Linked DNA regions of Homo sapiens: all the other regions are reported to be linked to region 2. Evidence: microRNA targets listed by miRTarBase, many of them from high-throughput screens and not tested one by one. Region 2 holds a microRNA gene; each other region holds the end of a gene's coding sequence.

Region 1 (4,000 bases), not on the chromosome of region 2:
AGTCATGAATAAATGAGTATCTCTGGATAATATTTGGTACTTATGTAACTGCCTTTTAAAAACTCAAGTGTTTCTTACTATTTTGGGAAGCTTGCATTTATTTGATATTGATCTACTACTGTTAATTGTGCATTAGTTTTATAACGTCATTATTAACATTAACATTTTTTATTCTGTAAGTAAAATAAGTAGGTAAGATTATTTGGAGGCTTTATAGTTTGCTTTGAAAGATTTATATAGCCTGGGGGAAAAGTCTCATACCTATTACTTTGTAGTAGTTGTTATTACTAAAGTGTTATAATGTGTCTGCAACTATATTTCATGTTTATATTAGTCTTGTGAAAAGTAATCCTTCTGTCTGTTTGTAGACACAGAAACGTAAAATGGATGGCGCACCTGATGGTCGAGGAAGAAAAAAGAAGCTGAAACTATGAATATGTTTTTGTTTCATAATCACTAACTTTAAACCAGTAGTTCTTTAATTTACGGGTCTTCATAAGATGTACTGTACAATGCTCAATTGTTATGTCATTTAAAGACATCAGGTTCATCTGTTTACTGAGCTAGAAACATAGTATGTAGTTTCACTTTTTTAAATGCAACAGCTGTGCTGAAATTTTTTTATCATTAACACTTGAAGTAATAAAATAGGCTTCATTTATTACTAAGTGTTTCATTTGATTTATTTTTCTATTGTAGTTCCATTTGTGAAGATTGTGACTTTTTGTTTATTAGCTATAATTTCTACACTTGTAAGGCTTAAAAACAAGTTAAAAAGAAAATTGCAAATAACATTTGTCCCTTTCAGTCTTCACCTAGTTGTGTAATTATTTTAATTCACTTTGCCTTTGCAGAAATTTGGGTATTTTCTTTGTAGTGCTATTGAGTCTCATCTGGAAAGATTATATAAATTGCATTCTCCTTGCTTATGTGGGTAGAATGGGAAAAGAAGGCAAGACAAAGTATACTTAAATTCTATGCATATTTCTGTTATGCTTTCTGTTTTTTTTAGTTGATTCTGAAATGAATATGCCCTATTCTTTTGAAAGAATGGCCTTTTAGTTGTATAGCCAAAGACATTTAGTATTTTCCGGTTCCTTAAGGTATTACTGTACCATTTTGTAAAAGGAATATTATTATTATTATTTTTAATTATTTGGTAAATATTTTGTCATATGACCTTCTGAAGCAGCCACAACTTAGATAATGTCAGAACTAAGGTGATTTTTTTTTTTTAATTTTGAAAGCCCAGCCAAAATGAGGTGTGAATTTGTCATACTGTTACATTGAAATTGGTAACAAAATATATCCCCTCCCATTTGGACTTTTAGGGTAAATGAAAATTTTATTGTATTTTAAAGTAGTTTCTAAGTGTTAGCAAGACTGACTATAATTCCAGTTTCTGTTTTCTATGGACAGACCTGATAAACTGGAGACCCTAAAGCAGGAATACCCAAATTATAGTGTCAGGATTTTAGCTGTACCAGAGGCCTTTATGTGCTACACATAATTTGTATAAAATTTTATATGTGCAGATTGGGTACATAAACAGTTCTCCATTTTTCTAAGGGAATGCAATAAATGTAGCATCGTGAATAAATATAACTTTTATAATCCGTAAAGTGGTCTTTTCTTTCCATTTCTTTAATTGTTTTCTCAATTTTTATTCACTTTTTCCTTTAGGACACATTTCCCTTAATTGGATATCTTTCCCTTAAATTTCTATTAGTAGTTGTTTTCATCTGCCCACATGTAATTGAAGATTTAAAAAAAAAATTTTGATACCTGCAGTATTACTAATACTGCTTAATTTCTTGAAATGTGGAATTGCTGCTGTTAATGTCAAGCAAAACGCAGTATTTATGGCAAATTGTAAAGTAATTTGAATTTAGTGCTACCTCAAAATTAACTTTTTAAATACTATGTTAGATTCTTAACAGTTAAAGGTCTAATACATGCATGAGGAATGGTTACTTATGAAAGGAAAAAGAATTTGTAAGAGTTATCACCTCAGTTTGGAAGAAATTGAAAAAATGTAAGGCTGAAGAAAACTTACGGAGGTCACAAAAGTGATGTTTTCAAGAGGAGGAGAAACTGGGAGGGAGATACACAGTGGAAATGCAAAATGAATCAAGTATAGTGGTAGCCCTGAGAGCTTAGGGACTCAAATGGAAACTGTGTGAAGGGAAACTCACTTGAAAAAAAAGCATGAACCAGCTAGGCCCTGCCACCACTGTGTTTGGCCAAGTTCACAAATCTGTTTTAACCTGTCACTTCCCTGTCACTTCTCTGGCTTTCCTCTCCCGCTAAGCTTTTGTTTCCTGGCAGTAATTAAAATCTTCTGTCAGTGCCACAGCTACTACTGCTACTGGAACTGCCTTAACCACTACTGCTACTGGAACTGCCTTAGCCACCTTGGTATCGTGGTTTGGCAAAGTATTGGCCTCTACCACCATAGGGCCCAGAGCTTCTGCCTCCAAAGTTTCCTCCCTTCATGGGTCCAAAATTTGAAGACTGATTGTTGTCATTGCCAAAATCATTGTAGCTTTTACCACCTCCAAAATTGCTTCAATCATTACCAAATCTATTATAGCAATCCCCACTGCCACCATATCCATCACCACCACCATGGCTGCCACCAAAGCCACCACGATCACAGAACTTGATGACTGTATTTGTGACTAATTGTATAATAGTTTCTGTTCTGTGGAAAGTAAAGCATTCCAACACAGGGTTTCAGTGTAGATTGTTTTGTTTTGTACCCATGCTGTTGATTGCTAAATGTTTTAATAATCTGATCATGATACTGAATAAATGTCTTTTTTTTTTTTTAACAACAAAGCATGAAAGATTGCTTAATTGTACATCTGACAAAGTGCTGGAGGCTATTATAAAGTGTAATTATTACTACTTTTAAGAGACAGGGTCTTGCTCTGTCACCCAGGCTGGAGTGCAGTGGTGCAATCACAGCTCACTGCAACCTCAAACTTCAGGGCTCAAGTGATCCTCCCACCTCAGCTTCCCAAGTAGCTAGGACTACAGATACCACGCCCAGCTAAGTTTTTTTAGTTTTTGTAGAGATAGGGCCTTGCTATGTTGCCCAGTCCGGTCTCAAACGCCGACTTCAGGCAATCCTCTTGCGTCAACCTCTCAAAGTGCTGGGATTACATGTGTAAGCCTACATTCCAAAGTGCTGGGATCATAGTTGTGAGCCTACACCACACCTGGCCTACATTTTGTTTTTCATAAAGTTGAGAGAAGCAAATCCTAAGCATAGAGTACAAGTTGAGCATCCCTAATCAAAAAATCTAAAATCAGAAATGCTCCATAATTTGAATGCTCATTAGGGCATTTCTGATTTTTGGATTAGGGATGCTGAACTGATAAGTATAATGCAAGTATTCTAAAGTCTGGAAAATGCTAAAAACACTTCTGGTTCCAGGCATTTCAGATAAGGATTGCTCCATCTGCCCTTTGAGTATTTAATATATGCCGATTGTTTGAACTAATCTGGATTTAATTATATAAATGATTATATAAATGATCTTTGGCTTAGTACCTTTCTTAATCTCGATCTTAAAAAGCATTGTAAAACACCCCTGTGGTTTTTCAGAAAAATTCTGAGTAAAAAATAAATTTCATCTTGTTCTATCCCTTTGAATCTAAAAAACAAATCTTTTTGAAAGGATGTGCTACTATATTTCAAACCAGTAGTTTTGGAGTAGAACATTGCTAAAAAAATGGGTACTAAGGAGGGTAATTTAAACAAAGTAGATTAATGACACAAGGTGGATTGATGAACTCATAAATCCAAATGAATGGAATGCTAGAAGACATGTATTAACGGAGTAGCTGTTACCAAAATATATACATATTTTGTATATGTACATAGCTGTTACCAAAATGTATCTTTGCCTGTTGGAATCTGATGTCAAGATCAAAGGTGAGGGCATCCCTCAGATGACAGATAATGGGCAAAATACATTCTTGGTGTGGAGCA
Region 2 (4,150 bases):
TCCAAAGATTATTAAAGAGAGTTTTCTTTTTCTTTAACCCAGCTATTCAAATACTCTATTAGACCAGGACCTGTAATAATACAGGCCTTGTCCAGAAGGGATCAGGTTTCTATGTTATATAATTAGGCAAGACTTTAAATAGTAAGACATGCACCTGTGGTGCTTTTGTCTCTAACTCCACAAATTTCAACATGCATACAAATCAAGAAGGGGTGGGGGTGTTACATGCAAATTCTGCTTCAGTGGGTGTTGGAGCCTGAGATTCTGGCTTTCTAACAAGCTCCCAGGTAAGTGCTGATGCTGCTGCTTTGAGGGCCACACACCTTGAGGAGTAGGAAGAGTACTCATACTGGAAGAGTATTCAGCACGGACTGGAATCCTGCATACATATCTGAGCTCTGTGTTCTGGTATGTATATAGACTTTTTAAAAAAATTAGTAGAGATGGGGTCTCACCATTTTGGCCAGGCTGGTCTCAAACTCCAGGGCTCAAGAGATCCTCCTGCCTTGGCCTCCCAAAGTGCTGAGATTACAGGCATGAGCCACTATACCTGGCTTATATAGACTGCTTCTAAGGTCCATTCTAACTGTACAATTCCATGATTCAGTCACTGTTTGGCTATTAACTAATTTTTTTAGGCTTCTGATTCTCATTGTTTATAAGCTGCTATATTAGAGAATGTTCTGTACTGGAAGGCCAGATAAAAAGTCTTACTTATGGCCAGTAAGTTTTATTTTTCAATCTTCTACAAGTCTGCCTCAACCCATGGGAAATCTTGGCTAATAGTAACATGATACTGGGCTTGGACCATAAACTAAACTTGAGTCAGCAATGTAGGGCTTTGGTTAGATAAGCAAGAATGAACTTGGGAATATAACCAAAAGAAAGGGACAGCTAATCCTACCAGAACAGGCAGTATTTATATGAATACTTTTTTCAAATATCCACAACTGGGAAAAGCTGCTGAACACATAAAGAAAAGTTAAAAGCACGGCATTATTTAGCTAGTGAAAAGAGAACAAAGAATGCCTTAAGAATAATTTTTGAATGGCAGCAGAAACCAGCATATCCTGTGAAGTAAATGCATTTTCAGGACCTCAAAATAGATTTAGGTTGCCTCTAAAGCAGAACTTTCCCATGATAATGATGATCCTAGGTGGTAGGATTGCCAATGGTAATTTTCTTTCCCAAAGATTCTTACAACCAACCATAAACCTACTAGATAACCTATCAGTTGTGTTATTAACTGATATATCAGTTGGGGTTCAGTGCAGACACTTCTCTAGGTACTGAATGCTAAGAATTATATGCTTAAAAATTATATGCTCTTACCATTAGAAGAGCTGGAAGAAGGCTGAGGGAGATGCCTTCTTCCAGCCCTTCTAATGGTAGGAGCATTAAGAGGGATGCTGTTGGGCTCGCAGTTCAGTCCACACAGCTACAATCTAGAGGTCAGGAAGCTATAAAGTCCACTGCTGGCATCACAGTCATTTCTCACAGATGAAGTTAGTGGCAATGCAGAGGCACAGAAAGTCTGGTCATTAAAAACCACATTTAATGTTGCACGTACATCAACAACTACCAGTGAAAACTAATAGGCAGCCAGGCATGTTGGTGCATGCCTGAAGTCCCAAACATTTGGGACACTGAGGTGGGAGGATCCTTGAGCCCAGGAGGTCTAGGCTGCAGTGAGTTGTGATTGTGCCACTGTACTCCAGCCTGGACAGAACAAGAATCTTTCTCAAAAAATAAATAAATAGAGAGAGAGAAGGAGGGAGGGAAGGAGGAAGGTAAAAAGAGAGAGAGAGAAAGGAAGGAAGGGAAAGAAGAGGAAGGAAGGAAGGAAGGAGAAGAGAAAGAAAAGGAAGGAAGGAAGGAAGGAGAAAGAGAAAGAAGGAAGGAGAAAGAAGAGAAAGAAAAGGGAGGAAGGAAGGAAGGAAGGAAAACTAATAGGCAGGGGAAATAGCCTCTCTCTTCCTTTTACCTTTCTAATTTCGCATCATTATATCTGACTGGCACAGTTTAAATTGTTTAACAAATCCTATTAGCAGCTCAGCCTAGAATTATAGTTATTGAGCTTTGTTCCTAACTCAGTATAAATCTATCTTTATTGAAGTATAGCATACAGACAGAAAAATGCACAAATTATAATCAGAGAGCTTGATGAATTTTCATAAAGTAAACACACCTACATATTGCTAGCACCCAGATTGGGAGGCAGAAACTACTACCATACCAGAAGCTCCCTTCATTATCTTTTCTAGGCATTATCCTCCCTCAAATTGACTGTAATCTTGGCTTCTAATACCCTAGACCAATTTGGCCTATTTTTAAACATTAGACAAAATGGAATGATACAGTGTGTATTATTTTATTACTGGCTTTTCCTACTCAACTATTTGTGAGATTCATTCATGTTGAGAGTAATAATAGTATCTTCATTTTCATTGCTGTGTAGTATTCCATTGTATGAATATAACACAATTTATACGTTCTACCAAAGATGGACATTTGGGTTGTTTCCAATTTGAGATTACTGCAACTAGTGCCACTGTGAACATTGGTGAACACACACACACACACATATTTCAGTTGGATATATAAAAGTGTAATTTCTCTGATGCATGGGGTTCAGCTTGAGTAGTACTGCCCAACAGTTTTTCACATCTTCATCAAAACTTGATCTTTTCCATCTTTTAAATTTTAGCCATTCTCTTCAAAGACTAATGCAGTGTATTGAATCTCATTGTTGTTTTCATTTTTCTGATATCAAATAAACACCTTTTTAATTGTTTATTGGCCATTTGGGTACCCTCTTCTGTGAAATGCCTATTCATGTGTTTTGTGTGATTTTCTATGGGCTTGTCTGCCTTTTCTTGTTTTTATAGTCCTTTATTCTGGATATGAGTCCTTTGTCGGGTATATGTATTGATAATATCTTTTGCCACTATGTGGCTTTTTGTTTTTTGTTTTTTTTTTTTGAGATGGAGTCTTGCTCTGTCACCCAGGCTGGAGTGCAGTGGCGTGATCTCGGCTCACTGCAAGCTCCTCCTCCCGGGTTCACGCCATTCTCCTGCCTCAGCCTCCCAAGTAGCTGGGACTACAGGTGCCCGCCACCATGCCCAGCTAATTTTTTGTATTTTTAGTAGAGACGGGGTTTCACCATGTGAGCCAGGATGGTCTCAATCTCCTGACCTTGTGATCTGCCTGCTTCGGCCTCCCAAAGTGCTGGGATTACAGGCGTGAGCCACTGTGCCCAGCCCACTCTGTGGCTTATTTTATTCACTCTTTTAATAGTGTATTTTGAAGAAGACATTCATAATTTTGAATTAGTTTAGTTTATCAGATGTTTTCCTTTATGGCTTATTTATTTTGTGTGTCTCCAGTTTAAGAAATCTTTGTGGATTCCAAAATCGTGAGTATTCTTCTGTTTTCTTGTGAAACTGTTATTGTCCCACTTAGATTTACAATTGTGACTTTTATGGATGGTGAAAAGTGGGAAATATAGTTTTGAGCCTTCCAGTTTCTATAATTCTGTAGAGTAAAAATGGAGTATATAGAGAAGGTAGTGAAAATGTATGCAAGAAACCATATCTAACACAGTTAACTTAGGTGACTGTTTACGCTGTAAAACAGTGATATGTTTAGGCTTTGTGTCCCCACTCAAATTTCATCTTGAATTGTTTTTGTTTTTGTTTTTTGAGATGGAGTCTCGCTCTGTCGCCATGCTGGAGTGCAGTGGCACGATCTCAGCTCACTGCAACCTCTGCTTCCAGGGTTCAAGCACTTCTCCTGCCTCAGCCTCCTGAGTACCTGGGACTACAGGCACACGCTGCCACGCCCGCTAATTTTTGTTGTTGTTGTTTGTATTTTAGTAGAGATGGGGTTTCACCATGTTGCCCAGGCTGGTCTCAAACTCCTGAGCTCAGGCCATCTGCCCGCCTCGGCCTCCCAAAGTGCTAGGATTACAGGTGAGTGCCCGGCCTCTTATCTTGAATTGTAATTCCCGGGTGTTGAGGGAGAGACCTGGTGGGAGGTGATTGGATCATGGGGGAGGTTCCCCCATGCTGTTCTTATGACAATGAGTGAGTTCTCATAGATCTGATGGTTTTATAAGGAGCTCTTCCCACTTTGCTTCTCTCTCCCTCCC
Region 3 (4,000 bases), not on the chromosome of region 2:
TTCTACTGGGAAAAAAAACAAAAAACAAAAAAACAAAACTGATGAGGCACAGTGGCTCACGCCTGTAATCCCAGCACTTTGGAAGGCCAAGGTAGAAGGATTGCTTGAGCCCAGGAGTTCAAGACTAGCCTGGGCAATATAGTGAAACCCTGTTTCTACAAAAAATAAAAAAATTAGCCTAATATGGTGGTGTGCCTGTGTTCCCAGCTGCCCTGGAGGCTGAGGCAGGAGGGTCACTTGAACTCAGGAGGTTGAGACTGTAGTAAGCCATGTTCCCGCTACTACACTCTAGCCGGGGCAACACAGTGAGACCCTGTCTCAAAAAAGAAAAAAACACACAAAAACAAACCAAAACCTGCCACTATACTTTAAAGAAGCTAAGAGAGGTATTGTTAAACAAAGCGTCCTAGGGAAGTAACAATGAGAAGTTAAGTTTCTTAGAAATCTTGAGTTGAATTGATATTTAATAAGGTTACCTAATAACACTCTGTCAGTTATCTAATTGTATGTTTTTTTTTTAAAAGATCTTTGGATGGATTATATGAAAGAAGAATTGAACCACCCCCTTGGTAGACCTGAGAACTGTGGACAGATCTACTGGCGAGCGATGAAAATGTTGCAGGGAGAGTCAGCAGAGGCATTTGTAGCTAAACATGCTATGCATCAGACTGGCCATTTATGAAGATGAAGAATACAGTCAGCTTTGTGAAATAGTATTGCAAGCAAGCCCCGTGGGCAAATTTGTATTGAGTCCATCTGTAATTTGCTCAGTGATGGCAGACAAGATGGCTGTCTGGTTTTGAGACACACTTTAATTTTATGTTAACTTGTTAAATCTTTTTAAAAATTAAAAAATTTTTATGATTGAGACTGGGTCTTGCTCTGTTGCCCTGGCTGGTCTTGAACTCCTGGACTCAAGTGACCTTCTCACCTCAGACTCCTGAGTAGCTGGGATTATAGGTGCATGACACTGCTCAGTTTGATGTGCTAATCTGATTCCAGTAAAGAGAATTGCTGATTTAATGTTGAGGCCCGATCTTCCACAGGTCCTAAATGTTTCCCAAAATACATGGATAGCATACGACTGGGTTTTTTTAAAATTATCCCAGGTCAAGCATGAGTATCTCTAATCTCGACCTAAGAGCCAGTTAAAATGAAGGAGAAAGTGGCCAGGCATGGTGACTCAACGCCTGTAATCCCAGCACTTTGGGAAGGCTGAGGCAGGCGGATCACCTGAGGTCAGGAGTTTGAGACTAGCCTGGCCAACATGGTGAAACCCCGTCTCTACTAAAAATACAAAAATTAGCCAGGTGTGGTGGTGGGTGCCTGTAATCCCAGCTGCTTGGGAGGCTGAGGCAGGAGAATTGCTTGAACCTGGGAGACGGAGGTTGCAGTGAGCCGAGATCATGCCATTGCTACTCCATCCTGGGTAAGAAGAGCGAAACTCCTTCTCAAGGAAAAAAAAAAAGGAGAAAGTACAGTTTTGTTGGTTTATTCTCATTATAAAAGATACGTGGTATGCATTTGTTCTGGAAAATATGGAGGAAATAGAATAGTGTGGTAAAAAAAAGCATCCTGTCACTGGGAGAAGCTTTCAGTGTAGCTTATTGTTACGTTTCACTTAGTATTGTTTTTCTGTGTCATTAAATAGCCTTAAAAACATTTAATGAATTCGTAACATTACATTGTAAAAATGAGCCATAATATATTTTACTAATCCTCTGGTTAGACTGTCTTTTTTTTTTTGAGATGGAGCCTTGCTCTGTCATCCAGGCTGGAGTGCAGTGGCTCCATCTCGGCTCACTGCAACCTCCACCTCCCGGGTTCAAGTGGTTCTGGCTCAGCCTCCCGAGCAGCTGGGTGGGATTACAGGCACCCGCCACCGCGCCCAGCCAATTTTTGTATTTTTAGTAGTGCGGGGGTTTCATCATATTGGCCAGGCTGGTTGCGAACTCCTGACCTCATGATCCACCCGCCTTGGCCTCCCAAAGTGTTGGGATTACAGGCGTGAACCACTAAGCCTGGCCTGGACTGTCATTTCTAATTTTTTTAAAAATTAGATAAATGCTGTTGATGAAGATTCTTGTCAATCTTTGTTCACATCCCTGGCCATTTCCTTAGGAGATTGACATCCGACAGTGGAATTACTGGATCAAAGGATACTGCTTTTAGAGAATACTGATATGTATTGCTGGTTTGCTCCTTCTTTCAAGCAATACATGAAAGTGTCAGTACCCTTACCTGTACTGGTGTAATTATATCTTTTATTTTTACCATTTTATAGGTGAAATGTGATATGTCATTGTTTTACCATACTTTGATATTAGTGAAGTTAGTGTATTTTATGTTTCTCATCTTTTTACATCCTTAGACTATTTAAAAATTTTTTTTCTTACTAATTTATGAGTTAATTTTTTTTTTTAAATTGGACAAGTTCTTGCTTTGTCACCTAGGCTAGAGTGCAGTGGTGTGATCATGGCTCACTACAGCCTTAACTTCTGGGCTCAAGAGATCCTCCCACCTCAGCCTCTTGAGTAGCTGGGACTGCAGGTGCACACCACCATGCCTGGTTAATTTAAATTTTTTTTTGTAGAGACTGGTCTTGCTATGTTGCCAGGGCTGGTCTCTTAAACAGTTGGGCTCAAACAATCCTCCTACCTCAACCTCCCAAAGTGCTGGTATTATAGGCATGAGCCATTGTGCCTGGCCAGAGTTTTTAAAAACATATTCAGAATATTAATATCTTGTTTCTCATTTGTTGCAAATAATTTTACCCCCAGCCTTGTTTGTGGTGATTTTTTTTTTTTGAGACAGAGTCTTGCTCTGTGGTCCAGGCTGGAGTGCAGTGGTGTGGTCTTACTGCAACCTCTGCCTCCTAGGTTCAAACAGTTCTCCCTGCCAAAGCCTCCCAAGTAGCTGGGATTATAGGCACCTTTTGTGGCGATTTTTGATGCCCAGAGGTATTTTGTGTGTGTATGTGTGATGTCTGTTTTTAAAATGCTTTGGAAGCTCTTCCTGGTGCTGAGAACAACTCTTTTTCCCCAAGCAGTTAATTTTGCCAACACTATTTGGGCAGTTATGTTTCTCTCTGCTGATTTGTGATGTTACCTTTATTATATATTAAATTTCTATGAGTATTAGAGTCTACTTTAGAACATTTTTATTTTAAGCTTTTGTACTGTTTTCTTTTTCTTTCTGGTTTTTTTTTTTTTTAGACCAAGTCTCACTCTGTCGCCCAGGCTGGAGTGCTGTGGGGCAATCTCTGCTCACTGCACCCTCCACCTCCCGGGCTCAAGTGATTCTCCTGCCTCAGCCTCCCGAGTAGCTGGGATTATGGGTGTGTGCCACCACGCCTGGCTAATTTTTGTATTTTTAGTAGAGATGGGGTTTCACCATGTTGGCCAGGATAGCCTTGAACTGACCTCAAGTGATCTGCCTGCCTCGGCCTCCCAAAGTGCTGGAATTACAGGAGTGAGCCACCGCGGCCAGCCCCTGTTTTCTTGTCATTTGTTTTAAAATAAGAAAAAAATTCCTCTTTTTCCTGTCCCTTAAGTCCTGGGATGTTTAACATTCTTAATCTTATTTGGCACTTTAATTTTACGAAAGAGATATGTAGATTAGGGAGCAAAGAGGATAGTGGTAGTCTCCTTAACACAAGGCTATAAGGGTGGTCACCTGGGGTCATCACATCCCTGTATCTGATTCTCAATATTGCAGGTTATGAAAACACATCTAGCTAGTACACCTAGAGTTGCACTGTTAGAAACAGTAGCTCCAAGGCACATGTAGCAATTTAAATTTATTAGAATTATTCAATTTATTCACATTGGCCACATTTCAAGTGCTCAGTAGGTATATGGTTACTATATTGGACAGTACAGATAGTAGAACTTTCATTTCCACTTCCACCATTAAAGAACGTTCTATTGGACATTGCTGACCTAGAGGCAGTTAGCCTTGGGGATACTGACTCCTGTGTAGGAACATCTACATATAGAAC

The links. The annotated mature microRNA hsa-miR-6512-3p reads UUCCAGCCCUUCUAAUGGUAGG and lies in region 2 at 1,372-1,393, shown strand. An mRNA with a match to its seed (bases 2 to 7 or 8) in the 3' UTR can be bound and repressed. Matches are read on the target gene's strand: a 7mer-m8 pairs with bases 2 to 8, a 7mer-A1 pairs with bases 2 to 7 and ends in A, and an 8mer does both.
Region 1: miRTarBase lists SMARCA5 as a target of hsa-miR-6512-3p. Seed matches in the 3' UTR shown: 7mer-m8 at 2,944-2,950.
Region 3: the mRNA of UTP6 is a reported target of hsa-miR-6512-3p. Seed matches in the 3' UTR shown: 7mer-m8 at 1,773-1,779 and 7mer-m8 at 2,834-2,840.

The regions. Positions count from the first base shown.
Region 1 is chr4:143,552,751-143,556,750 of GRCh38, forward strand. It overlaps SMARCA5 (SNF2 related chromatin remodeling ATPase 5), which reads left to right. Exons shown (of 24, transcript NM_003601.4): 24 at 369-4,000. The coding sequence ends at 434. Among named protein-coding and RNA genes, the nearest start is that of SMARCA5-AS1, 40 kb to the left of the region's middle.
Region 2 is chr2:177,311,054-177,315,203 of GRCh38, reverse strand. It overlaps MIR6512 (microRNA 6512), which reads left to right and starts at 1,322; the gene lies at 1,322-1,398. LOC100130691 (Putative uncharacterized protein FLJ44553) reads left to right here. Exons shown (of 9, transcript NR_026966.1): 7 at 3,876-3,971.
Region 3 is chr17:31,860,041-31,864,040 of GRCh38, reverse strand. UTP6 (UTP6 small subunit processome component) reads left to right here. Exons shown (of 19, transcript NM_018428.3): 19 at 525-3,137. The coding sequence ends at 682. Among named protein-coding and RNA genes, the nearest start is that of COPRS, 2.8 kb to the right of the region's middle.